Linked DNA regions of Homo sapiens: region 2 is linked to region 1. The links come from fine-mapping of genetic effects on gene expression. A gene starts in region 1. The other region holds a variant in brackets. All regions are shown on one strand. Distances are from middle to middle. Region 1 holds the start of LRRC36 (leucine rich repeat containing 36). Region 2 overlaps RANBP10 (RAN binding protein 10).

Region 1 (12,396 bases):
TCACACCTGTAATCCAAGCACTTTGGGAGCCTGAGGTGGGAAGGTGGCTTGAGACCAGGAGTTTGAGGTTGCAGTGAGCTATGATTGTGCCACTGTACTCTGGCCTAACAGAGCAAGATCCTGTCTCAAAAAAGAAAAACAAACAAAAAAATGAGCCCAACAAGGTTGAAAGATGCAGAGCAATATTTAAAAATGTTGTATTTTTATACTTCAGCAATGAACAATCTGAAAGTGAAATTAAGAAAACAATTCAATTCCATTTACAATAGCATCAAAAATAACATACTTAGGAATAAATTTAACAAAAGAATGAAATACATGTGCACTGGAAACTTCAAAACATTGTTGAAAATTTAAAAGACCTAAATAAATGAAAAAATATCTCATGCTCATGGATTGGAAGATTTAATATCGTTAAGATGGCAATAGTCTCCCAATTGATTTACAAATTCAACACAATCTCTGTGAAAATCCTGACTTTTTGCAAAAATTGAAAAACTGATGCTAAAATTCATATGAAAATACAAGGGATCCAGAATAGCTAAAACAGTCTTGAAAAAAGGAGAACGTTTAAGAAGTCACATTTCCCACTTTTTTTTTTTAAAGGCAGACTGCCACATGCAGCGCCTCATTAGGATGTGTCTGAAGTCTTGGAAGCTTGACTACCCTACGTTCTCCTACAACGGATCTTAAGAACTTGTTTGGAGGTTCTAGCTAGGAAGAGCAGATACTTGTATACCCTTGACTGAAGACTGGTCCTCCTTTATTGGGGATGGTCGTCCTCTTTGACTGAGCACGCAGCTTCAGGAGGGACGCACGTGGAGCGTTGAGGGAAGAAGGGGACACCCGCCTAGACAGCCAGATCAGCCAAATCAACCCTGGCAATCAATGGAGTGACAGATGTCACAGCCAGATCACCCTCACATCCCACACTTTTAAAACTTATTTCAAAGCTAGATCAAGACAGTGTGCTACCAGCATAAGGATAAATATAAAGATAAGTGGAATAGAATTGAGAGTACAGAATAAAACCCCTACACTTATGATCAATTGAATTTTGATAAGCAATCCAAGATGATTCAATGGACAAAGAATAGTCCTTATTAAAAATGGTGCTGGGACAACTGCCCATCCATATGCATAAAAGATAATAATAACAATAATAATAAAGTTGGACCCCTACCTCAACCCATACACAAAAATTAGCTGCAAGTGAAACAGACCTAAAACTATAAAATCTTTTTTTTTTTTTTTTTGAGACGGAGTCTCGCTGTATCACCCAGCCTGGAGTGTAGTGGTAACAATCTCGGCTCACTGCAAACTCCACCTCCCGGGTTCACTCCATTCTCCTGCCTCAGCCTCCTGAGTAGCTGGGACTACAGGCACCCGCCACCACGCCCGGCTAATTTTTTGTATTTTTAGTAGAGATGGGGTTTTACTGTGTTAGCCAGCATGGTCTCGATCTCCTGACCTCGTGATCCACCTGCTTTGGCCTCCCAAAGTGCTGGGATTACAGGCGTGAGCCACTGCACCCAGCCTAAAACCATAAAATCTTTAGAAGAAAATAGAAAATCTTCATGACTTTGGAGTAGGCAAAACTTTCTTAGATGTGACACTAAAAGCAAAAGTGACCAAAAAAATAGATAAATGGAACTTAATCAAAATTTAAAAACATTTGTGCTTTAGAGGGCACCATCAAGAAGGTGAAAAGATAACTCACAGAATGGAACAAAATATTTGCAAATCATTTGTCTGATAAAGAACTTGTTTTTAGAATATATAAAGAACTCTTAAACTCAATAACAAAAAGACAACCAAATTTAAAAATTGGCAAAGCATCTAAATAGACATCTCTCCAAAGAATATATACAAATGACCAACAGAACGAAAAAAGATGCTCAACATCCTTAGTCATCAGAGAAATGCAAATCAAAACCCACAACAGAATACTACTTCACACCCATTAGTATGGCTACAATGAAAACAATAGGTAATAACAAGTGTCGACAAAGAAACCAGAACCCCCATGCACTGCTGGTGGAGGTGTAAAATGGTGCAGGCACTTTGGAAAACAGTTTGGTGGGTCCTGAAAATGTAAAGCATGGAGTTATTCTACTATGAGCCAGCAATTCCACTCCTAGGTGTACACTTAAGACAAATAAAGACATATGTCCACACCAAAATTTCTAGACTAATGTTCATAGAACATAATAGCCAAAAGGTTGGAATAAACCTAATGTCCATCAACTGACAGATGAGTAAACAAAATGTAGTATATCCACACAATGGAATATTGTTTGTCAATACGAAGGAATGGGATGAACATGGTGGCTTGTGCTTGTAATCCCAGCACTTTGGAAGGCTGAGGCAGGAGATTCACTTGAGCCCAGGAGTTTGAGGCTGCAGTGAGCTGTGATCGTGCCATTGCACTCCAGCCTGGGCGTCAGAGTGAGGCACGTCTCTAAAAAAATAAAAAATAAAAAGGAATGAAGTACTGATACATGATAACAACATGGATGAAATTCGAAACATTATGCCAAGGGAAAGAAGCCAAACAAAAAATCACATATGATTCCATCCACATGCAATGTGTGGACAAGGCAAATTTCTAGAGATAGAAAATAGATTAGTGGTTGCCTAGGGCTGGAGAGGCTATGGGGAGATGGGGTGTGACTACTAATGAGTATGGGATTTCTTTTGGGGATGGTGAAAATGTTCTAAAATTGATTGTGATGATAGTTGCACAACTCTGAACATACTAAAACTCACTGAATTGTACACATTAAAATGTGTGAATTGTATGGTATGTGAATTATATCTCAATAGATCTACAAAAAAAAAAAAAGATGAGGTACTGTCCATTCCATGGAGCGCATGCAGAACTCTCTTGGGATCTTACCTGCAGAGACATTACATTACTGGAGGATGAATGCTATAGATACCTTTTCATATATACAAAGGCAGCAAAGATCACTAACCTTCCTCAGCTCATTGTTAAAAGTTTAAGGTCATCTGTATATCTGTTGGACAAGAGGTTGTTGAAAAAAAAGTTTAAGGTCATCTGTACATCTGTTGGACAAGAGGTTGTTGAAAAAAAAGTTTAAGGTCATCTATTTATAAGTGAATTGTCTTCTTTGTTTCAAGATGACCTAGTTTATCAATACGATGGAAAAGTAGAGAGCCATCAAACATACAAACCATCCATATCAAATTTTAAAATAAAGGGCACTACCCTTGTAAAAATATTTTTTAAAGGGTAGTAAATAGTATATAGAATTTTACCTAAAAAGAACCATAAAACAATATCGAATTCTAATTAAAAATTATGCAGGCTGAAGTGATTGGACTGCAATGTACTGATATCTGCAATTTATTTTGAGATGAATTTAAAAAAGACAGATTGATGGACAGATAGGATTGCTAGATGGACATGTGATAAAACAAATATGAGCAAAATGTTGATTGTAGAATGCAGGTGGTGGATATATGGTGCTCACTGTACAATTCTTTCAATCTTTCTGTGTTTATAAAATTGCATTAAGACGTTCGTGGGGGAAAAACAGTGTTAAAGTAAGAGGTGATTACTTAAGAAAGGAAAAGCTCCCTGCTCCAGAAAGAACCTGCATTTCCCATTCTGACAGCTGAGGAAGGAAAATAAATGCATGCAAGAAAGAATGGGATGGGGTCCATCTCTCCCACAGCAATATTCAGACATAAAGAAGAGCAATTATATATGCCACATTTGAGACTAGAAGAGTTAAAGGGGGTAATAAGAGAAATATGACAAATTGTGAAATGATTGCATAACTGACAGAAGCAGAGCCAGAAAAGTCAATCTAATGAGCTAACCTAGAATTCTAAGTCCCAGCCCTTCTAAAAGCCTTTCTACAAGTTCATGTTCAGGCAAAGGCTGAATGTAACAAATGGAGTGACTAAGGGTCTCACATAGACCAGAAAGCATAAATATGCAAGGAAGGACCCTTGATTCTGCTTTCTGTTCTCCTTAAAGGTGGCTGAGAGCTCAATGGGGGTGCTCAGAGTGTGCAGATGTTGGATGCCAAAGAAAACCTACTTCTCGAAGGTGAGCCCCAGTTCTGGTCTCAGTTCCTCTTTTCTTTCTTTCTTTTTTTTCTTTTTTTCTTTTTTTCTTTTTTTTTTTTTTTGAGACGGAGTCTCGCTCTCTAGCCCAGGCTGGAGTGCAGTGGCACGATTTTGGCTCACTGCAAGCTCCACCTCCCGGGTTTACGCCATTCTCCTGCCTCAGCCTCCAGCCTCCTCAAGTAGCTGGGACTACAGGCGCCCGCCACCACGCCCGGCTTTATTTTATTTTATTTTATTTTATTTTGTTTTATTTTTGTATTTTTAGTAGAGATGGGGTTTCACTGTGTTAGCCAGGATGGTCTCGATCTCCTGACCTCGTGATCCACATGCTTCGGCCTCCCAAAGTGCTGGGATTACAGACGTGAGCCACCACGCCCAGCCCACCCTCTTTTCTTGTTAAGGATAGGGTGTGACAAGAGGGTCCTGGCTCCTTCTTACATACATGTCCCATCCACAGGTGGGCTCTTAAGTGCCTGCTGGAGTGAGGGTAGGGGTTAGGGATGCGGCTGTTCTTTCCCAAAGACTACTCAGGGGCTGGTTAGTGCAGAGCTATCGCAGCCTGGCGACAGCCCTCAGTCACAGGCAAGCTTAGGGGAACCTGTGGTGCTTGAAAGACAAAAGGCTTCTTGCCGGACTGACTTCAGGAAACGGGGTAGCCCTAAAGCAGTCATCCCCACCCCATTACAAAGAGCTTCTCTCTTTCCCACGCTGATCCTTCTCCCCCGAAGAAGCTCCGTCCAAGTAAATTTCTTACCTTTTTTTTTTTTTTTTTTTTGAGACAAGGTCTGGCTCTGTCACTCAGGTCGCCCAGGCTGGAGTGCAGTGGTGCAATCTCGGTTCACTGCAACCTCCACCTCCCGGGTTCAAGCGATTCTCCTGCCTCAGCCTCCCGAGTAGCTGGGACTACAGGCCGTGCCACCACACCCGGCTAATTTTTGTATTTTTAGTAGAGATGGGGTTTCACCATGTTGGCCAGGCTGGTCTTGAACTCTTGACCTCAGGTGATCCGCCCACCTCGGGCTCCCAAAGTGCTGGGATTACAGGCGTGAGACACCGCGCCCAGCCCGTCCAAGTCAATTTCTAGAGCTAGAACTTCCTCATGCTCTAAAGACAGGACCCCAACTCCTCAGAGCCAGGATTCCCAACCTTTCAGATCTGGAGCTCCCCATCATGCCTTAGAGTTCTGTCCCCACGCTCCAATCCTTCAGATTTGGATCTCCCCTTCACACACACCCTCGCCTTGCCCCAAAGTCAGCATCCCCCAGCGCTGAGATATGAAGACCACCCCGTCAAAGGGGCACACGCCCAGCCCTCAGAACCGGAGTCCCCCACATCCTCAGAGCCAGAACACTTCATCCCTCAAGACAGAGCGTTATTCTAACTCCTCAGAGCCAGCCCCCCAAATCCTTCCCGGCTGGGGGCCCCTCGCTCTCTCCCATGCCCCAGAGCCAGGTCTCGAACCACTTAGCCCCAATCCTTGGCCACAGCGGCCCCCATTCGCCGCTTTGGTGCTTTTGGCGCCCCCGCCAGAGCGGGCTCCGTACCATGGTCGCGGCTCCAGCAGCGGGCGGGCGGGCTTGTGACCCGGCCAATAACGGTTCCCGGGGTCGCGGCGGCGCGCGCGCGGGGGGCGGGGCAGTGGGCGGGGCCTGGCGTGCGCCGGGTGGTCTCGCGGGCGGTGGCAGGTGAGCGGCGGGCGGGGATGGCGGAGCAATGGGAGCTGGACGAGGAAGGCATTCGCCGCCTGGGGGCGCTGACGCTGGAGCAGCCGGGTAGGGTCTGGCCGGGAGGGTGTGGACTGGGAACGTAGGGTCAGAAGCTGTGGAAAGAAAACTGAAGTGGAAGGCGGGGAACCTGAGATAGAGGCGAGGGAACCACAGAGAAGCGGTACCTGAGGCTGGGGGGCGGGGGGATAACTTGAGGCAGAAGGTTAGAGGGAGGTGGAGGTGGAGGAACTGAAGTAACGGGAGGGTGTGGGGCAGAGCCCGAGGAATTGAGAGAGAAGAGGGGAGTGTGAAGTAGGGAAGGAGAAACAAGGTTAACAGGGGACCCTGCCGCAGGTGACAGAACTGCGGGGGGCGGTGGCTGACCGCTGTAATCCCAGCACTTTGGGAGGCGGAGGCGGGTGGATCACCTGAGCGTGGCCAACATGGTGAAACCCCGTCTCTACTAAAATACAAAAATTAGCCCGGCGTGGTGGTTCAAGTCTATAATCCCAGCTACTCGGGAGGCTGAGGCAGGAGAATCGCTTGAACCCGGGAGGCGGAGGTTGCAGTTAGCCGAGATCGCACCACTGCACTGCAGCCTGGGCGACAGAGCGAGACTCCATCTCAAAAATAATAATAATAAATAAAATAAATAAATAATAAAATGTCTATTAGACATCCAAGTGTAAGGTACCTAGTAGGCAGTTGGATATATGGGTCTGGACCTCAGAGGAGAGGTCAGGGTTAGAGATGAAAATTTTGGAGACATTAGCAATAGGTGGTATTTAAAGCTACGGGAGTGGATGAACTCAGCTAAGGAGAGAATGTCGATGGAGAAGTGAAAGAAAGCTTAAGACTCAACCTTGGAATATTTCAGTGTTTAGAGGTTGTATAGAGGAAGAATGTGGTATCTTGGAATTTGAGAAGGGGTAGTGTATCGAGCAAGCAATGGCCAACTGTGCCAAATGCTATTGACAGGCTGAGCAACTTAAATGCAGAGTGTCTGTTAGATTTAGCAACATGGAACTTACTGGTGACCTTGACAGAGGGAGTTTTGGGAGGGTGGGGAGGAGGGAAACCAGATTGGAGTGGGATGAAAAAGGGAAATGATATTTGAGGGGAAGAGACAGTGAAAGTAAGAACTTTTGCTGAAAATTTTAGCTGTAAAAGAGACTGCAGAAATAGATGGTAGCTGAAGCGTATGATGTGCAGTCAAGAACAGAACAGGAAGGATATACTAGAGCATGTCGGTAGTCTAATGATTAATTTGGTAGAGGGGGGAAATATGTAATATTTACTCATTTTGACTGTTAAAATAATTCAATTAATTTATTCTGTGGGTAATATAATAATTGTACAGTGAGGGCCAGGCGCGGTGGCTCACGACTGTAATCCCAGCACTCTGGGAGGCCGAGGCGGGCGGATCACGAGTCAGGAGATCGAGACCATCCTGGCTAACACAGTGAAACCCCGTCTCTACTAAAAATACAAAAAAAATTAGCGGAGCATGGTGGCGGGCGCCTGTAGTCCCAGCTACTCGGGAGGCTGAGGCAGGAGAATGGCGTGAACCCAGGAGGCGGAGCTTGCAGTGAGCCGAGATCGCGCCACTGCACTCCAGCCTGGGTGACAGAGTGAGACTCCGTCTCGAAAAAATAAATAAATAAAATAAAAATTGTACAGTGAGAAGAAAGTCTTTACTCCCCCATCCCCGTCTCATAGGCCTAGTTCCCCTTCCTAAAGGCAATTACTGTTACCAGTATCTTGGATAGTTTTCCAGAAATATTCTCTACATATATAAGCATTTATCACTTATTTTATAATTTTATATTATGGCAATTTTCAAATATATACAAGAGTAGAGATAACAGAATAATGAACTCTATTAGCCTACCTCAACAGTTATCATCAATTCATGGCCAAGCTTCTTTCACGTATACCTCACCTATCCTCCACCCACCTCCAACCCCCTACACTGACTATTTTGAAGCAAATTCCAAGTATGTGATTTCCTCCATAAATATTTCAGTAGTATTTTATTTATTTATTGTTTTTATTATTTTTCAGATAGAGTTTTGCTCTGTCACCCAGGCTCTAGGGCAGTGGCGTGATCTCGGCTCACTGTAATCTCCACCTCCGCATTTCAAGCGATTCTTCTGCCTCAGCCTCCCAAGTAGCTGGGACTACAGGCACCCGCCACCACGCCCGGCTAATTTTGTATTTTCAGTAGTGACAGGGTTTTGCCATGTTGGCCAAGCTGGTCTTGAACTCCTGACCTCAAGTGATCCACCCACCTCAGCCTCCCTAAGAGTTGGGATTATAAGTGCAAGCCACAGCACCTGGCCAGTATGTATTTTTAAAAGCTAAGATTACTTTAAAAAAAAGTCACATATGCAACCTAAAAAATTTAACAGTAATTTCTTTTTTTGGTTTTGTTTTGTTTTTGAGATGGAGTCTGGCTCTGTTGCCCAGGCTGGAGTGCAGTGGCATGATCTCAGCTCACTGCAACCTCTGCCTCCAGGGTTCAAGCAATTCTCCTGCCTCAGCTTCCTGAGTAGCTGGGATTTCAGGCATGTGCCACCATGCCTGGCTAATTTTTTTGTATTTTTAGTAGAGACGGGGTTTCACCATGCTAGCCAGGCTAGTCTTGAACTCCTGACCTCAAGTGACTCAGCCTCCTAAAGTGAACAGTGATTTCTTGATATCATGAAATATCTAACTAGTGTTCTTATTTCCCCAGTTGTCCTATAATTTTTTAAAATTAGAATCCATGGCCGGGTGCGTTGGCTCATGCCTGTAATCCCAGCACTTTGGGAGGCCAAGGTGGGTGGATCACTTGAGGCCAGGAGTTCAAGACCAGCCAGGCCAACATGGTGAAACCCCATCTCTATTAAAAATACAAAAATTAGCTGGACATGGTGGCTCACACCTGTAATCCCAACTACTTGGGAGGCTGAGGCAGGAGAATCGCTTGAACCCGGGAGACGGAGGTTGTAGTGAGCTGAGATCGCGTCACTGCACTCCAGCTTGGGTGGCAGAGCAAGTCTCCATCTAAAAAATAAAATAAAATAAGAATCCGTATATGGTCCATATATTGCAATTGGTTGATGTATGTCTTAAGTCTTATTTGATCTGTAGGCTCCCCATTTTTTTTCCCTCGCATTTTCAATTGTTTTTGAAGAAACTGGCTTTGAAAGAGTTTACTATAACCTGAACTTTGCTCATTGCATTCCTAAGATGTTAAACATTTTCCCGTGTTCCCTGTACTTCCTATGAATTGGTAGTTAGATGAGGCTTAATCAGATTCAGGTTGGATTTTTTTTTTTTCACAAGACGATTTCATAGGTAATGGTGTATGTTTATGTTAGGAAGTATATGGTGCCTAGTGTTCTTTCTTTTCGTGATATCAGCCACTGAATATGATTACCTAAGTTAATTCATTAGGGATTGCAAAATGGTAATTGTCTATTTCTTTCATTTTTCTTCATTAACTGTAATACTTCTATAAAGAGAAATTTCCTCACATCAACTGTTTGCTTATCCTGAGGTACAGTTTGTATAGGAAAGGCAGCATAAAAGCTTGATTTGTTTTCACCTTATATGCCAGCTTTCAGAATGATGAGTTATTTTCTTAGCATTCTCCAAAGGTGACCAGTGAGGACTGTTTTGCTTTCTCAGTATCATTATAAACTCATCGATTTAAATATATGTCTTAGGGCTGGGCATGGTCGTTCACGCCTGTAATCCCAGCATTTTGGGAGGCCAAGGAGGATGGATCACCTGAGGTCAGGAGTTCAAGACCAGTCTGTCCAACATGGTGAAACCTCATCTGTACTAAAAATACAAAAAAAATTAGCCCGGCATGGTGGCAGGTGCCTATAATCCCAGCTACTCAGGAGGCTGAGGCAGGAGAATCACTTGAGCCTGGGAAGCAGAGGTTGCAGTGAACTGAGATCGCACCACTGCACTTCAGCCTGGACGAAAGACTGAGACTCAGTCTAAATAAATAAATAAATAAATAAATGTCTTAGTCCCTTTTCTCTTGTCATAACAGAATACCATAGACTAGGTAATTTATAAAGAACAGAAGTTGATTTGGCTCATGGTTCTGGAGGCTGAGAAGTCCAAGAGCATGGTGCCAACATCTGGTGAGGGTCATTCCATGGTGGAAGGGCAGAAGGTGCATGTGTGAGATGTGAGAGAGAAAGAGAGAGAGAGAGAGAGAGAGAGAGAGAGAGAGAGAGAGAGAGAAGACTGAACTAATTCCTTTATTAGGATAGCTAACTCCCGTGATAACTAACTCCATGATAACAGCATGAAGCCACCGTTGACCTAATCACCTCTTAGAGGCCCCACCTCGCAGTGCTGTTACATTGGCAATTACGTTTCAACATGAAAGCTGGGCATGGCGGCTTACACACTTTGGAAGGCCAGGGAGGAGGATGAGGCCAGGTATTTGAGACCAGCCTGGGCAACACAGCAAGATCCTGTCTCTACAAAAAATTTAAAAATTAACTGGGTGTTGGTGGTGTGTACCTGTAGTCCCAGCTACTCAGGAGGCTGAAGTGGAAGGATCCTCTGACCCCAGGAGTTTTAGGCTGCAGTGCACTATGATAGTGCTACTGCCCTCCAGCCTAGTTGACAGAGCAAGGCCCTATCTCTGAATAAATTAATACATTTCATCATGAGTTTTGGAGGGGACGTTCAAACCATAGCAATATATTTCAATGTAAGTTTTAATCCATTATAGTTCTTATCATAATTGATGTTCAGTTTATCCTAACTTTAGTTAATAGGTGATCTTTCAAGTTGACTCCTGAGGTCTTTTTAAAAAAGTTTTATGGCCAGGTGTAGTGGCTCACGCCTGTAATCCCAGCACTTTGGGAAGCCGAGGGGGGTGGATCACCTGAGGTTGGGAGTTTGAGACCAGCCTGGCCAGCATGTTGAAACCCCATCTCTACTAAAAATATAAAAATTAGCTGGGCGGGGTGGCACATGCCTGTAATCCCAGCTACTTGGGAGGCTGAGGCAGGAGAATCGCTTGAACCCTGAAGGCGGAGGTTGCAGTAAGCCAAGATCACACCATTGCACTCCAGCCTGGGCAAAGAGAGCGAAACTCCATCTCAAAAAAAAAAAGAAAAAGAAAAAGTTTTATTTATTAGAAACATTCATTGTCATTATAAATAAGCTTTGTTAAAGGTTGTTAATTCAATTTCCAAATGAGCTGTAAATGGTTTTCATTAGAGAGACTACTTGATTTGTTATTTTCAAATAGCAAATTTTTGCCCACTGGGGTTATGTAACCCATATATTAAAATTGGAAGATCATTCTTTTATTCTTGGCATCTATGCTGTGCAGTGTTTGATTTGTTCTCTGATTTGTCTTCACTCTTTATAAACACTGAAACGGCCAGGCGCGGTGGCTTACGCCTGTAATCCCAGCACTTTGGGAGGCTGAGGAGGGCGAATCACGAGGTCAGGAGATCGAGACAACCCTGGCTAACATGATGAAACCCTGTCTCTACTAAAAATACAAAAAAATTAGCTGGGCATGGTGGTGGGCGCCTGTAGTCCTAGCTACTTGGGAGGCTGAGACAGGAGAATGGCGTGAACCTGGGAGGCAGAGCTTGCAGTGTGCCAAGATGGTGCCATTGCACTCCAGCCTGGGTGACAGAGCGAGACTCCGTCTCAAAAAAAAATAATAAATAAATAAATAAACACTGAAACGAAATGCATAACCTCTTAAGACATGCATTCATGTGAATCATTAAAGAATGTTTGTCTTTGTGGCAGTTTATCATTTTAATAATTCACATTCCTTCTTAAAATGTTAAAATGTCTGCTCTTCAAAATAGACTGCAGTGAAAGGCATGAGAAATGCTGTGGGTCATTGATGGAAACCATAATTGTCCTTAGCTTTTGTCCCATGTTAACAGACTCTCAGGGTGTTAGATCATAACATACCACAGAATTACCAATACACTGCCCTCAAAGTCAGGAAAATTTTATTTATTTATTTATTTTATTTATTTATTTTTTTTTAAAAAAAACATGGTCTTATTCTGTTGCCCAAGCTGGAGTGCAGTGGCATGATCATGGCTCACTGCAGTCCCGACCTCCTGGGCTCAAGCAATCCTCCTGACTCTGCCTACTGAGTAGCTGGGACTACAGGTGTGCACCACCATGCCCAGCTAATTTTTTCTTTTTTTGTAGAGATGGGTGCATTTTAAAAAGATATAATTCACATACTATAAAGTTCACCGTTTTAGTATTTATTTATTTATTTTGAGATAAGAATCTTGCCCTATTGCCCAGGCTGCAGTGCAGTGGCCCGACCTCAGCTCACTGCAACCTCTATCCCAGGTTCAAGTGATTCTCCTGCCTCAGCATCCTGAGTAGGTGGGACTGCAGGCACGTCCCACCATACCCTGCTAATTTTTGTGTTTTTAGTAGAGACAGGGTTTCACCATGTTGGCCAGGCTGGTCTTGAACTCCTGACTTCAAGTGATCCACCTGCCTCCGCCTCCCAAAGTGCTGAAATTACAGGCATGAGCCACCACACGTAGCCCCATTTAAAAAATATACAATTCAG
Region 2 (12,396 bases), 470 kb after region 1:
TAGCTACTACTCAGGAGGCTGTGGCTAGAGGATTTCTTGAGCCTAGGAGCTCAAGGATACAGTGAGCCATGATTGTGCCACTGCACTCCAGTCTGGGCAACAGAACAAGACCATATTTCTTTTTTTTTTGAGATGGAGTCTCACTCTGTTGCCTAGGCTGGAGTGCAATGGCACCATCTCGGCTTGCTGCAACCTCCACCTCCTGGATTCAAGTGATTATCCTGCCTCAGCCTCCCAAGTAGCTGGGATTATAGGCACACACCACCACGCCTGGCTAATTTTTTGTATTTTTAGTAGAGACGGGGTTTCACCATGTTGGTCAGGCTGGTCTCAAACTCATGACCTCAGGTGATCCACCCATCTCAGTCTCCCAAAGTGCTGGGATTACAGGCATGAGCCACCATGCCCAGACAACCATATATCTTAAAAACAACTAAATAAATAAATAAGAAGAAATGGACTGGGCGCAGTGGCTCACACCTGTAATCCCAGCACTTTGGGAGGCCAAGACAGGCGGATCACGAGGTCAGGAGTTCAAGATCAATCTGACCAACATGGCGAAATCCCATCTCTACTAAAAATACAAAAATTGGCTGGGCGTGGTGGTGCACACCTGTAATCCCAGCTACTCGGGAGGCTGAGGCAGGAGAATTGCTGAACCTGGGAGGCGGAGGTTGCAGTGAGCCGAGATCGCACCACTGCACTCCAGCCTGGGTGACAGAATGAGACTCTGTCTCAAATTAAAAAAAAAAAAGAAGAAGAAGAAATGAAGTTATGAAACATGCCACAACACAGATAAACCTTGAAAACATAATGCTATGTGAAATGGGTCAGACACAAAAGGACCAATATTGTAGGATTCCCCTTACATGAACTATCAAGAATAAGCAAATTCATAGAAACAGAAAGTAGATCAGAGGTTAACAGGGACTAGGAGGAAGGAGAAATGGAGAATTACTGCTTAATGGGTACAGAGTTTCTGTTTGGGGTGATGGAAAAGTTCTAGAAATAGACAGTGATATGGTGATGGTTGCACAACATTGTGGATGCAATTAATACCACTGAATTACACACTGAAAATGGATAAAATGGCATATTTTATGTTACATATATTTTACCACACACACATACACAGAGACACCAAGAACACCCCTATGGCCCTGCAAACCAGCAAGGACCGCATCTGGCTTTTCCCGATGAGACAAGGGAGGCCCTGGCACAGAGCACAATGGGCAGCATAAGAGTATTCTGGCCTCACATTGGGGCCAGAAGTCCCGCACTTAGCCCACAGCAAATGACAAGAGTGAAGAAGGACCCAACTGTTTCTACTTTTACCAATTTTTTATTTTTTTATTTTTTGAGATGGAGCCTCAATCTGTTGCCTAGGCTGGAGTGCAGTGGCACAGTCTTGGCTCACTGCAACCTCCGCCTCCCAGATTCAAGCAATTCTCCTGCCTCAGCCTCCTGAGCTGCTGGGATTACAGGCACTCGCCACCATGCCTGGCTAATTTTTGTATTTTTAGTAGAGACGGGGTCTCATCATGTTGACCAGGCTGGTCTCAAACTCTTGACCTCATGATCCACCCACCTCAGCCTCCCAAAGTGCTGTGATTACAGGCATAAGCCACAGAGCCTGGCCAGTTTTACCAATTTATTTCTTTTTTTTTTTTTTTGAGACAGAGTCTCGCTCTGTCGCCCAGGCTGGAGTGCATTGGCGCAATCTCGGCTCACTGCAACCTCTGCCTCCCGGGTTGAAGCGATTCTCCTGCCTCAGCCTCCCAAGTAGCTGGGACTGTAGGCGTGTGCGACCACGCCTGGCTAATTTTTTGTATCTTTAGTAGAGACAGGGTTTCACCATGTTAGCCAGGCTGGTCTTGATCTCCTGACCTCGTGATCCACCCACCTCGGCCTCCCAAAGTGCTGGGATTACAGGTGTGAGCCACTATGCCCGGCCCAGTTTTACCAATTTCTTTTTAGAGGGAAGGTATATTTCATGGGCTGGCAAGCCTATGGGCACTTTTAAGAACTGCTGCATAAGATACAGGAGCCAATGGGGCTCGACGTTTTAAATTTAAGCTCCATCAGCAGGATGTCCCTACACCCACAGGGCTCTGGTAGGAAGTGATGAAAAGGAGAGAAGAGACAAGGTCTTCAGCCTCAGGGCTGAGATGGCTGTTGGAGGCTGCAGGAAGGTACCAGCTCTGCCACCTACCCTCAGGTGAAAGGGCTAGTCACCAGTACCCCCAACCCTAGACCTCCCAGGGGCTCCAGGAATCTCACTGGACAGTTTCATCTTGACATCTAATACCTTAGCCACAGTTCAGCAGGCTGGCAATCTTGTTGCTATCAGAACCTGCCCCAGAAAAGAAATCAACAGCCTCTACATCAAAGGGGAACTCTGGGACCTCAGTTACAAAATGATCCTTGGAAGATGGTTCAGGAAAAACAACAACTGATATTTAGGTCTGAAATGAGGGCTAATATTCAGTGCTAGGAATTTTATTTCATAGTCTAATCGGCCCACTTAAGGCCATAGTCAATGCCAGGTGTGCTGGCTCACACCTGTAATACCAGCCTTTGATAGGCCAAGGCAGGAGGATTGCTAGTGCCCAAGAGTTTGAGGCTGCAGTGAGTTATGATCACACCACTGCACTCCAGCCTGGGCAACAGAGTGAGACTCCGTCTCAAAAAAAAAAAAAAAAAGTAAATAAATAAATAAAGCAAGCTTCAGTCCATCATGACACTGGCTGCTACGTGTAAGCTGCTCCTCCAGCAAGCAACCATACCCGCCCCTGCCCCAGGAAGCCATGCAGTCACCCACTGAGCCCAATTCTGTGTAGATTTGCTACTAAGAGGAAGGGCATTACAGAGATGAGTGACCTGGGCCTTAGAACTATTCAAAAAATATAGGCTAGACCAGGCACCGTGGCTCACGCCTGTAATCCCAGCACTTTGGGAGGCCGAGGCAGGCGGATCACGAGGTCAGGAGATCAAGACCATCCTGGCTAACACGGTGAAACCCCATCTCTACTAAAAAAAAATACAAAAAAAAAATTAGCCAGGCGTAGTGGCGGACGCCTGTAGTCCCAGCTACTTGGGAGGCTGAGGCAGGAGAATGGCATGAACCTGGGAGGCAGAGGTTGCAGTGAGCCGAGATCCCGCCACTGCAGTCCAGCCTGGGTGACAGAGCGAGACTCCATCTCAAAAAAAAAAAAAAGAAATCGAAACCATCCTGGCCAATATGGTGAAGCCCCATAAAATACAAAATACAAAAATTAGCTGGGCATGGTGGTACGCACCTATAGTCCCAGCTACTCAGGAGGCTGAGACAGGAGAATCGCTTAAAACTGAGAGTCAGAGGTTGCAGTGAGCCAAGATCACACCACCGCACTCCAGCCTGGCAACAGAGCAAGACTCCGTCTCAAAAAAAAAAAAAAAGAATAGGCCAGAAAGCAAAGGGGCCTCAAGTTAGGGTGCTCGTATGGAGAAATGTGGTTCTGTGTATGGGTCAGGAGACCCTCATGTGCCCAATGTCACCAGCACTATCAAAGCACCCCGAGAGATTACCAGACAAAAGGGGCAGAACAGCCCCTATTGGTGGCCCTAGGCAGGTTACACATCCTTGGTTCTGAGCTCCTTCTCTAATGTACTAACAGAGTCTCAAGTACCAAACCTTGACTTTCCAGAGCCTGCCACATTCAAAAACCCAAAGGCACTGCCCGTAACCGGAGGGTGTAGCCACTAATGCCCCAGCTTAATTTGAGAGAGTTCCCATTAGACCCCACAGGGGTCTAACCTCCACCTCTATGGCCCTGTGTAATTACGGAGCTGAAGCACACAAGCATAGCAGTGTGTGAACACCACAAATGTCCTTTGGTACACAGACACTACCCTTAACTCTAGTTACAGGTGTTCATCCAGACACTGGCCTTGAGTTGGCTGGCTTGTAATTTTTTTTTTTTTTTTTTTTTTTAGATGGAGTTTCACTTGTTTGACTGGCTGGAGCACAATGGCACGACCACGGCTCATTGCAACCTCCGCTTCCCAGGTTCAAGCAATTCTCCTGCCTCAGCCTCCCGAGTAGCTAGGATTACAGGTATACGCCACCATGCCTGGCTAATGTTTGTATTTTTAGTAGAGACAGGGTTTCACCATGTTGGTCACGCTGGTCTCAAACTCCTAACCTCAGGTGATCCGCCCACCTCAGCCTCCCAAAGTGCTGGGATTACAGGCGTGAGCCACCGTGCCCAGCCTCGCTTGTAATATTTTATCTGCCATCTTATTTTCAATCGGAGACATTATTTAAGTAGCCTAGTCCACCACTACATGAAAATTCTAAGTCTTGATAATTTTATAAGCATCAAAGTCCATATATTAAACCCCTTTCTACTGGAAATTTCTGGTTTCTGTTTTCTGCATTTGCTTCTACTAGTACTATGCACATAATGGCCATAAGCCTGCATTTGTTTAAACCTGCATCTCTCTATCCCTCTGCTATTTATTTTTATTTTTTATTTTATTTATTTATTTATTTATTTTTGAGACGAGTCTCACTCTCTCATCCACACTGGAATGCAGTAGCTCAATCATAGCTCACTGTAGCCTCAAACTCCTGGTTTCAAGCAATCCTCCTGCCTCAGCCTCCCAAGTAGCTAGGTCTACAGAAGTATTCTATCACACCCCGCTCATTTTTAAAAATGTTTCGTAGAGGTGGGGGTCTCACTATGTTGTCCAGGCTGGTCTTGAACCCCTAGGCTCAAGCAATCCTTCCGTCTTGGCCTTCCAAAGTGCTGGGACTGGTCGGGGTGGTGGCTCAAGCCTGTAATCCCAGCACTTTGAGGGGCCGAGGCGGGCAGATCACCTGAGATCAGCAGTTTGAGACCAGCCTGGCCAACATGGCGAAACCCCATCTCTACTAGAAATACAAAAATTAGCCAGGCATGGTGGTGCATGCCTGTAACCTCAGCTCTCAGGAGGCTGAGGCGGGAGAATTGCTTGAACTCAGGGGGCGGAGGTTGGAGTGAGCCGAGGTCATGCTGCTGCACTCCAGCCTGGGTGACACAGCGAGACTCCGTCTCAAAATAAAAAACGAGCCACCACACCCGGCCTGCTGTGTATTTTTTAAACGTAGACTTTATCAGGTATTAAAAAAATCCAACATATTCTTTTTTTTTTTTTTTTTGAGATGGAGTCTCACTCTGTCTCCCAGGCTGGAGTGCAGTGGCACGATCTCGGCTCACTATAACCTCCGCCTCCCAGGTTCAACCAATTCTCCTGCCTCAGCCTCCCGAAGAGCTGAGACTACAGGTGTGTGCCACCATGGCCAGCTAATTTTTTTGTATTTTTAGTAGAGACAGGGTTTCACCGTGTTAGCCAGGATGGTCTTGATCTCCTGACCTCATGATCCACCTGCCTCAGCCTCCCAAAGTGCTGGGATTACAGGCTTGAGCCACTGGGCCCAGCCTAAAAAAAATCCTACATATTCTTTAACAGTTAAAAAAAAAAATTTCAGGCCACTATCTTGCCACTGCACTCCAGCCTAGGTGACAAGAGTGAGACCCTGCCTCAAATTAAAAAAAAAAAAAAACAAAAAAAAAAAACAGCAACAAAAAAAGGCCAAGTACAGTGGCTCACACCTGTAATCCCAGTACTCCGGGAGGCCAAGACAGGCAGATCACTTAAGCCCAGGAAGATCACCCTGGGCAAGTGGTGAAATTCCATTTCTACTTAAAAAAAAAAAAATTAGCTGAGCATGATGGCATGTGCCTGTAGTCCCAGCTACTCAGGAGGCTGAGGTGGGAGAATCTCTTGAGCAGGAGGGGAGGTTGCAGAGCCATGATTGCAATACTGCACTCCAGCCTGGGCAACAGAGTGAGACCCCGCCTCAAAAAAATAAATAGGCTGGGTGCGGTGGTCCACACCTATAATCCCAGCACTTTGGGAGGCTGAGGTAGGAGGATGACCTAAGGTCGGGAGTTCAAGACCAGCCTGACCAACATGGAGAAACCCTGTCTTTACTAAAAATACAAAATTAGCCAGGCATGGTGGTGCA[C/T]GCCTGTAATCCCAGCTACTCAGGAGGCTGAGGCAGGAGAATCGCTTGAACCCGGGAGGCGGAAGTTATGGTGAGCCAAGATCGTGCCATTGTACTCCAGCCTGGGCAACAAGAGTGAAACTCCGTCTCAAAATAAACAAACAAATAAAATAATTTTTTAAAAATAAAGGTTTTCGGCCGGGCGCGGTGGCTCACACCTGTAATCCCAGCACTTTGGGAGGCCGAGGCGGGTGGATCACGAGGTCAGGAGATCGAGACCACGGTGAAACCCCATCTCTACTAAAAATACAAAAAATTAGCCAGGTGCGGTGGCGGGCACCTGTAGTCCCAGCTACTCAGGAGGCTGAGGCAGGAGAGTGGCGTGAACCCGGAAAGTGGAGCTTGCAGTGAGCTGAGATCGCACCACTGCACTCCAGCCTGGGCGACAGAGTGAGACTCCGTCTCAAAAATAAACAAACAAACAAACAAACAAATGTTTTCTATACGTAAAATAAAAATATTTTGATTTTTTTTTTTTTTTTTTGGAGACAGAGCCTTACTCTGTTGCCCAGGCTGGAGTGCAGTGGCACAGTCTCAGCTCACTGCAACCTCCACCTCCCGCGTTCAAGTGATTCTCCTGACTCAGCCTCCTGAGTAGCTGGGATTACAGGCGCCTGCCACCATGCCCAGCTAATATTTTTTACTTTTAGTAGAGACAGGGTTTCGCCATGTCGGCCAGGCTGGTTTCAAACTCCTGACCTTGTGATCCGCCTGCCTCGGCCTCCCAAAGCGCTGGGATTACAGGTGTGAGCCACAGCACACAGCCTATTTTGATTTTTATAAAAGTAAATATAACTACTGACAAACTACTGGTGCAAGTTGTTATAAAAACAGGGCATTCCATTTTTTTAAAAAGTCCATGCCAATTTCAGATACATGGCTTTATAAACTGGGTTAGAATCAGTTCTACTCAGCAATCCAACCCCTCTGTTTCTTTCCTCTTGGTTCAGCTCTGCCTTGGGACTCTCCTTTAGAAGAAATAAGCTGAGCCCTCAACCATCTGGGCCTCTATCCACTTATCTTCCAACCACCTCCACCCTGAGGGCTAGTAGATTTCATCTCATGATGAAACTCTGACCAGTAAATTATAGCTGCCTGATGTGCTGTGCATTGAGAAAAATTCTGGGCTCTGTCTGGACAAGAACAAGTGCTACTGTCAATCAGTAATGTTGGTCATAGAAGCTGAGGGTATTGTGGGGTATTGGGGCCTTCACACTTGCCACCCCTGACCTAAACTAAACTCCCCTGAAACCCCAAGCATCTCTAATTCCAAGAGTTAAGTAACAAGAAATGGCATAAGAGGGGTGCCAAGGGCTTCCCCAGTCCCCTCCCAACTTCCCTATATAGTACAGAGCATCTTGTTCTGGCCCCTTCATGACAGAAGGGCTAGGCTCTGTTCCACCACCAAGTCACAACACCAACGATCCTAGAATTACAAAGACATTTTATATGGATTTTGAACAGAATGGAGAGGCAGAGGAACATCTTTGCATTTAGACATAATTATCCATCCCTCTTCCACTGATGAGTCCCTTCTTTCCAACTTGACCCGACCACACAAGACCCACTCTGGAGCCCTTTATTCCTTCCCAATGGTCCCATAATAGGAATGGCACACAGTGCCTGCCACATGGGGCTGCTAGGTTCATCCTCCTGTGCTCTGGCCTGATGAGCTTCTGCTTCTCTTCTAACAAGGAATCTCCCTTACACCATGACCCATACAGGGAAAAGACCAAAAGTTCCAGAGAACAAAAACACCATCAAGGCAGAAAGGCAGGAGGTGAAGTGAATTCTAGGAATTTCTCTAAAAGCTAATCCTTGACCAAGAAGGCCCCAGCTATAAAGAAGGCAACGACGCTCCCCACTCTCAGCTCACAGTTGGAGCCTGGGTAGCAACATACAGTGAGGAGGGAGGCCCTACCAGAAAAGTGGCCACAGGCCAGGTGTGGTGGCTCATGCCTGTAATCCCAGCACTTTGGGAGGCTGAGGCAGGAGGATTGATTGAGCGTAGGAGTTCCAGACCAGCCTAGGAAATATAGCAAGACCCTGTCTCTACAAAAAATTTAAAAATTAGCCAGGGCTGGGGATGGTGGCTCACACCCGTAGTCCCAGCACTTTGGGAGGCTGAGGTGGGCAGATCATTTGAGGTCAGGAGTTCAAAACCAGCCTGGCCAACATGGCAAAACCTCGTCTCTACTAAAAATACCAAAATTAGCCAGGTGTCATGGCACACGCCTGTAATCCCAGCTACTCAGGAGGCTGAGGCATGAGAATCACTTGAACCCTGGGAGGCGGAGGTTGCAGTGAGCCGAGATCACTCCACTGGACTCCAACCTGGGTGACAGAGCAACACTCTGTCTCAAAAAATAAATTAAATAAATAAAATAAAAATTAGCCAGGCATGATGGCATGCACCTGTAGTCCCAGCTACTCAAGAGTCTCAGGTAGGAAGATTGCTTGAACTCAGGAGGTCGAGGCTGCAGTGAGCCATGATTGTGCCACTGCACTCCAGCCTGAGTGACAGAGAGAGACCCTCTCTCAAAAAAAAAAAAAAAAAAAAAAGCAAAGAACAGTGGCCACCATCTAGACTCCAGTTCTCTTACCCCGTGTTCCAGAACCCAAACATCCTACCCTGTGTTCCAGAACCCAAACATTCCATGTCTCCACAAATAGCACAATGTGTTACCTGAGTAGAAGTGCAGCCCAAAGCTCAGCATCTGCCTGTAAGACCATCAACTCCGGGGGGCAGTAAGGGAAAATGGGGCACAACCACGGCCTGTACCTACCTTGGGCAAGGACAGCACCTTCTTATCAGGGCGGGCAGGACAACGCCTTCCCCAGATGACATATGAGCACCAAAGTTCTCAACAGCACTGTACAATGCATGTAGACTGGAACTTGGTGAGGGGATCCAGGGTGAGAAGCCAGCCACAGCTGTCTCTCAGCTGGAAGGGCCTAAGCTTAGATGGTCCTCCACACCAGGAATGTGGCAGGTGAGATCTTAATCAAGATATCTTAATTAACAGTGGCTCTCTAGGTCTCCATGGAAAATCACTTTGGCTGATTCTGGCTCACCAGAGGAGATGCTTGGGTATAAAACATGGGGCATTACTGTCTTTCAGATGGGAGCTGGCAAAACCAAAATACCAGAACTCCAGCACAAGCAGAGTCCTCTCACCTCTGAGAAGCCTCCTGGCTACCAGTCTTTCACACCCCATCCCTTCATCTCTTCATACCAAAGGAACAGCCAAGAGAAAAAAAGACAACCGCTATGAGAAAACCATGCTAGAGCCAAAGACCTAAAGTCACTGGCCCACCCTGGACAAGGGCTCTTGGCCAGAGAAGCCTGGCTGAACCAGACTGGCAGAGTCTCTTCTTTTCTTCACTCTCAAAAGCATGGGTAGATCCACAGCCCCCCACACTGCTACTGCCCTCAAGATACAGCCCACGCTCCCTGGCCACAGCATACAAGGTATTTTCTTTTTTATTTTTTTAAGACAGAGTCTCACTCTGTCACCCAGGCTGGAGAGCAGTGGCGTGATCTCGGCTCACTGCAACCTTCACCTCCCAGGTTCGAGTGATTCTCCTGCCTCAGCCTCCCAAGTAGCTGGGATTACAGGCATGCACCACCACTATTATTAGCGCCTGGCTAATTTTTGTATTTTTAGGAGAGATGGGGTTTCGCCATGTTGGCCAGGCTGTTCTCGAACTCCTGAACTCAAGTGACCTGCCCGCCTCAGTCTCCTAAAGTACTGGGATTACAGGCATGAGCCAGGCCACACACAAGGTATTTTCAGTCTGGCCCTACCGACCTCATGTTCTGCGCTCCACATCTCTTTTTTTTTTTTTTTTTTTTGAGACAGAGTCTCGCTCTGTTGCCCAGGCTGGAGTGCAGTGGCGCGATCTCGGCTCACTGCAAGCTCGGCCTCCCGGGTTCACGCCATTCTCCTGCCTCAGCCTCCCGAGTAGCTGGGACTACAGGCGCCCGCCACCATGCCTGGCTAATTTTTTGTATTTTTAGTAGAGACGGGGTTTCACCATGTTAGCCACGATGGTCTCGATCTCCTTACCTCGTGATCCGCCCGCCTTGGCCTCCCAAAGTGCCGGGAATACAGGTGTGAGCCACTGCGCCCGGCCAGCTCCATGTCTTTTTATGCACTGTTTCTTCTGCCTGAAGCATCTGCTTCTCACTTTGTTCACCTAGAACACTCTAACTCCTCTTTCCAGAGCCCACATCACCTCTTATATGATTCTATGATGTTTTCCTCAAACTCTGAGGTACAGTCCATCCTCCAGGCCACCCCTGGATATGACACATACGGTGGCCTGACCCTTCGACACCACCGGTGGGGCCTCATGCCTGTGCTCCTGGGGCCCAGGCTGGGACAAAACAATGGATGTGATGGCTCACACCTGTAATCCTAGCACTTTGGGAGGCTGAGGAGGGCAGATCATGAGGTCAAGAGATCTAGAACATCCTGGCCAACATGGTGAAACACCGTCTCTACTAAAAATACAAAAACTAGCTGGGCATGGTGGTGCACGCCTGTAGTCCCAGCTACTCGGGAGGGTGAGGCAGGGGAATCACTTGAACCCAGGAGGCGGAGGTTTGCAGTGAGCCAAGATTGTGCCACTGCACTCCAGCCTGGCAACAGAGCGAGACTCTGTTTCAAAAACAACAACAACAACAACAACCAAAAAAAAAAAACAATGGGTACTGCGCCCTGGTGTCTGGAATGAATGAATGAGTGCACTGCTGCCTGGCCAAAGGAAGTCAGCTGCAGGAGCAAGGGAAGGCTGGCTGTGGTCAGAGACCCCTGCTCTGGGCCTGGGCCCAGACACTGGCTACAGAGGAAAATGCCCCCACCCCTCTCCATGCCTTCCAGTGCTCTAGCCCAGGCCTACTACTCTTGGGTAAAGCAACCATCACATGTCAGGAGGCCTCCGCCGCTGGGATGATGTTACAGTCTATTTTGAGGGTCACACTGGAGCATCTGTCAGCCTAGCCAGCCACACCCTCCATGTGTCATCACTAAGAGCCAGGGACACCCACAGGTCCATGAACTCTGCCTGCAGACATTGCTCCTCCCCAGGGACCCTCAGCTTCAGGCCCTCCTTCGCTTCCTAGAAAGACAGACCTGGATGCCCCTTATCTCCTGGCACCACTGGCAGTGCTCTGATGTCTCCTCACCCCACCAGACCCGCTCCCCGAGTTCACAGCTCTGGTGACTCGGCAAAATGCAGTTGAAGCCCATCAGTCTGTGCCAAGCTCTTAGCTCAAACACAGCCCCTCCTACTCCACAGAGCTCTCTTATACTTGAGGAGTGCCCAGAAAGCCTAGCACCCAGAAGTCAAGCTAGTTACCCATCAGACTCATAGGTCTAACAGGTCTCGCCTACTGGGGAACTCCTACTCATTCCTCCCAACTGTTCCCAGGCTCTGCCTCCTCTTGCAGAAAGACTTTCAGTCCACTCTCTACTGAATGGGCCACAGGCTTCCTGAGGACAAAGCTGATCTGTGCTGGCTTTACATCTGTTCTCCCTATACCTAGTATAGGGCCTGGAACATAGTAGGTATATATAAATATTCTGTGAAATCTTGACATGAAACTTTCCTTATTAGACTAGCTTAGTGTGTTCTTCTCCAAAAGATATTGTCAAAACAAAGGACGTTCTGGAGAACAATGACACTAACAACTGGGTTTATAAATACCTTTTACAAAGGAGGTGTACTCAAATCTACAGAAAAGCAAGTTTACAGATTAAATGGAACAGTAAGTTGATCAAGCCCGGCCCAGAGCATGCCACAATTCTCTGGCCCTACACAGCACCATGCACCTTTCAGCTCTGTCCCCTAACATTGCAATCTGGTAGGAATCCAACAGAACATTCCTTCACTCTACCCAGGGAAGAAATGCAACAGCTACAATGGGGAAAGGCAGCAGCAGCATGGACATGTGTGTCTAGGATCAGGCGAGGACATCTGATAAGTCAGGCTACTCCACTGCACACCCTAAGCCCTGCAGCCAGGGTAGGCCACCAAACATCCCAGGGACTCAGGGCTCACTCACAAAATGGGAAGGTAGATGATCACCTGCTCTAGCCACTTGCCAGAGATGCTGTGAGGATCAAACTAGGTAACACAGGAAAGCTAGACAACCAGTTAATGCTTGGGTCATGGACTAAACCAGGATAAAAAACACACCTCCAAAATCCATGGGAGGCTGACAATGGTGGCTCCTGCCTGCAATCCCAGCACTTTGGATCACTTTGAGGCAGGAGGATCACTTGAGGCTAGGAGTTGGA

Evidence for each region.
Region 2: its variant is fine-mapped to the expression of LRRC36 in visceral fat (GTEx, PIP 0.92).

Annotation. Positions count from the first base shown.
Region 1 is chr16:67,321,060-67,333,455 of GRCh38, forward strand. It overlaps LRRC36 (leucine rich repeat containing 36), which reads left to right and starts at 5,756. Exons shown (of 14, transcript NM_018296.6): 1 at 5,756-5,873. The coding sequence starts at 5,804. KCTD19 (potassium channel tetramerization domain containing 19) reads right to left here and starts at 5,682. Exons shown (of 16, transcript NM_001100915.3): 1 at 5,646-5,682. The coding sequence starts at 5,648. It also overlaps the pseudogene RN7SKP118. RefSeq lists an enhancer at 3,814-3,893 and a silencer at 5,649-5,798.
Region 2 is chr16:67,789,359-67,801,754 of GRCh38, forward strand. The region is part of intron 2 of RANBP10 (RAN binding protein 10); the gene reads right to left. Among named protein-coding and RNA genes, the nearest start is that of RANBP10, 11 kb to the right of the region's middle. The variant C/T (reference allele first, on the strand shown) is at 6,053.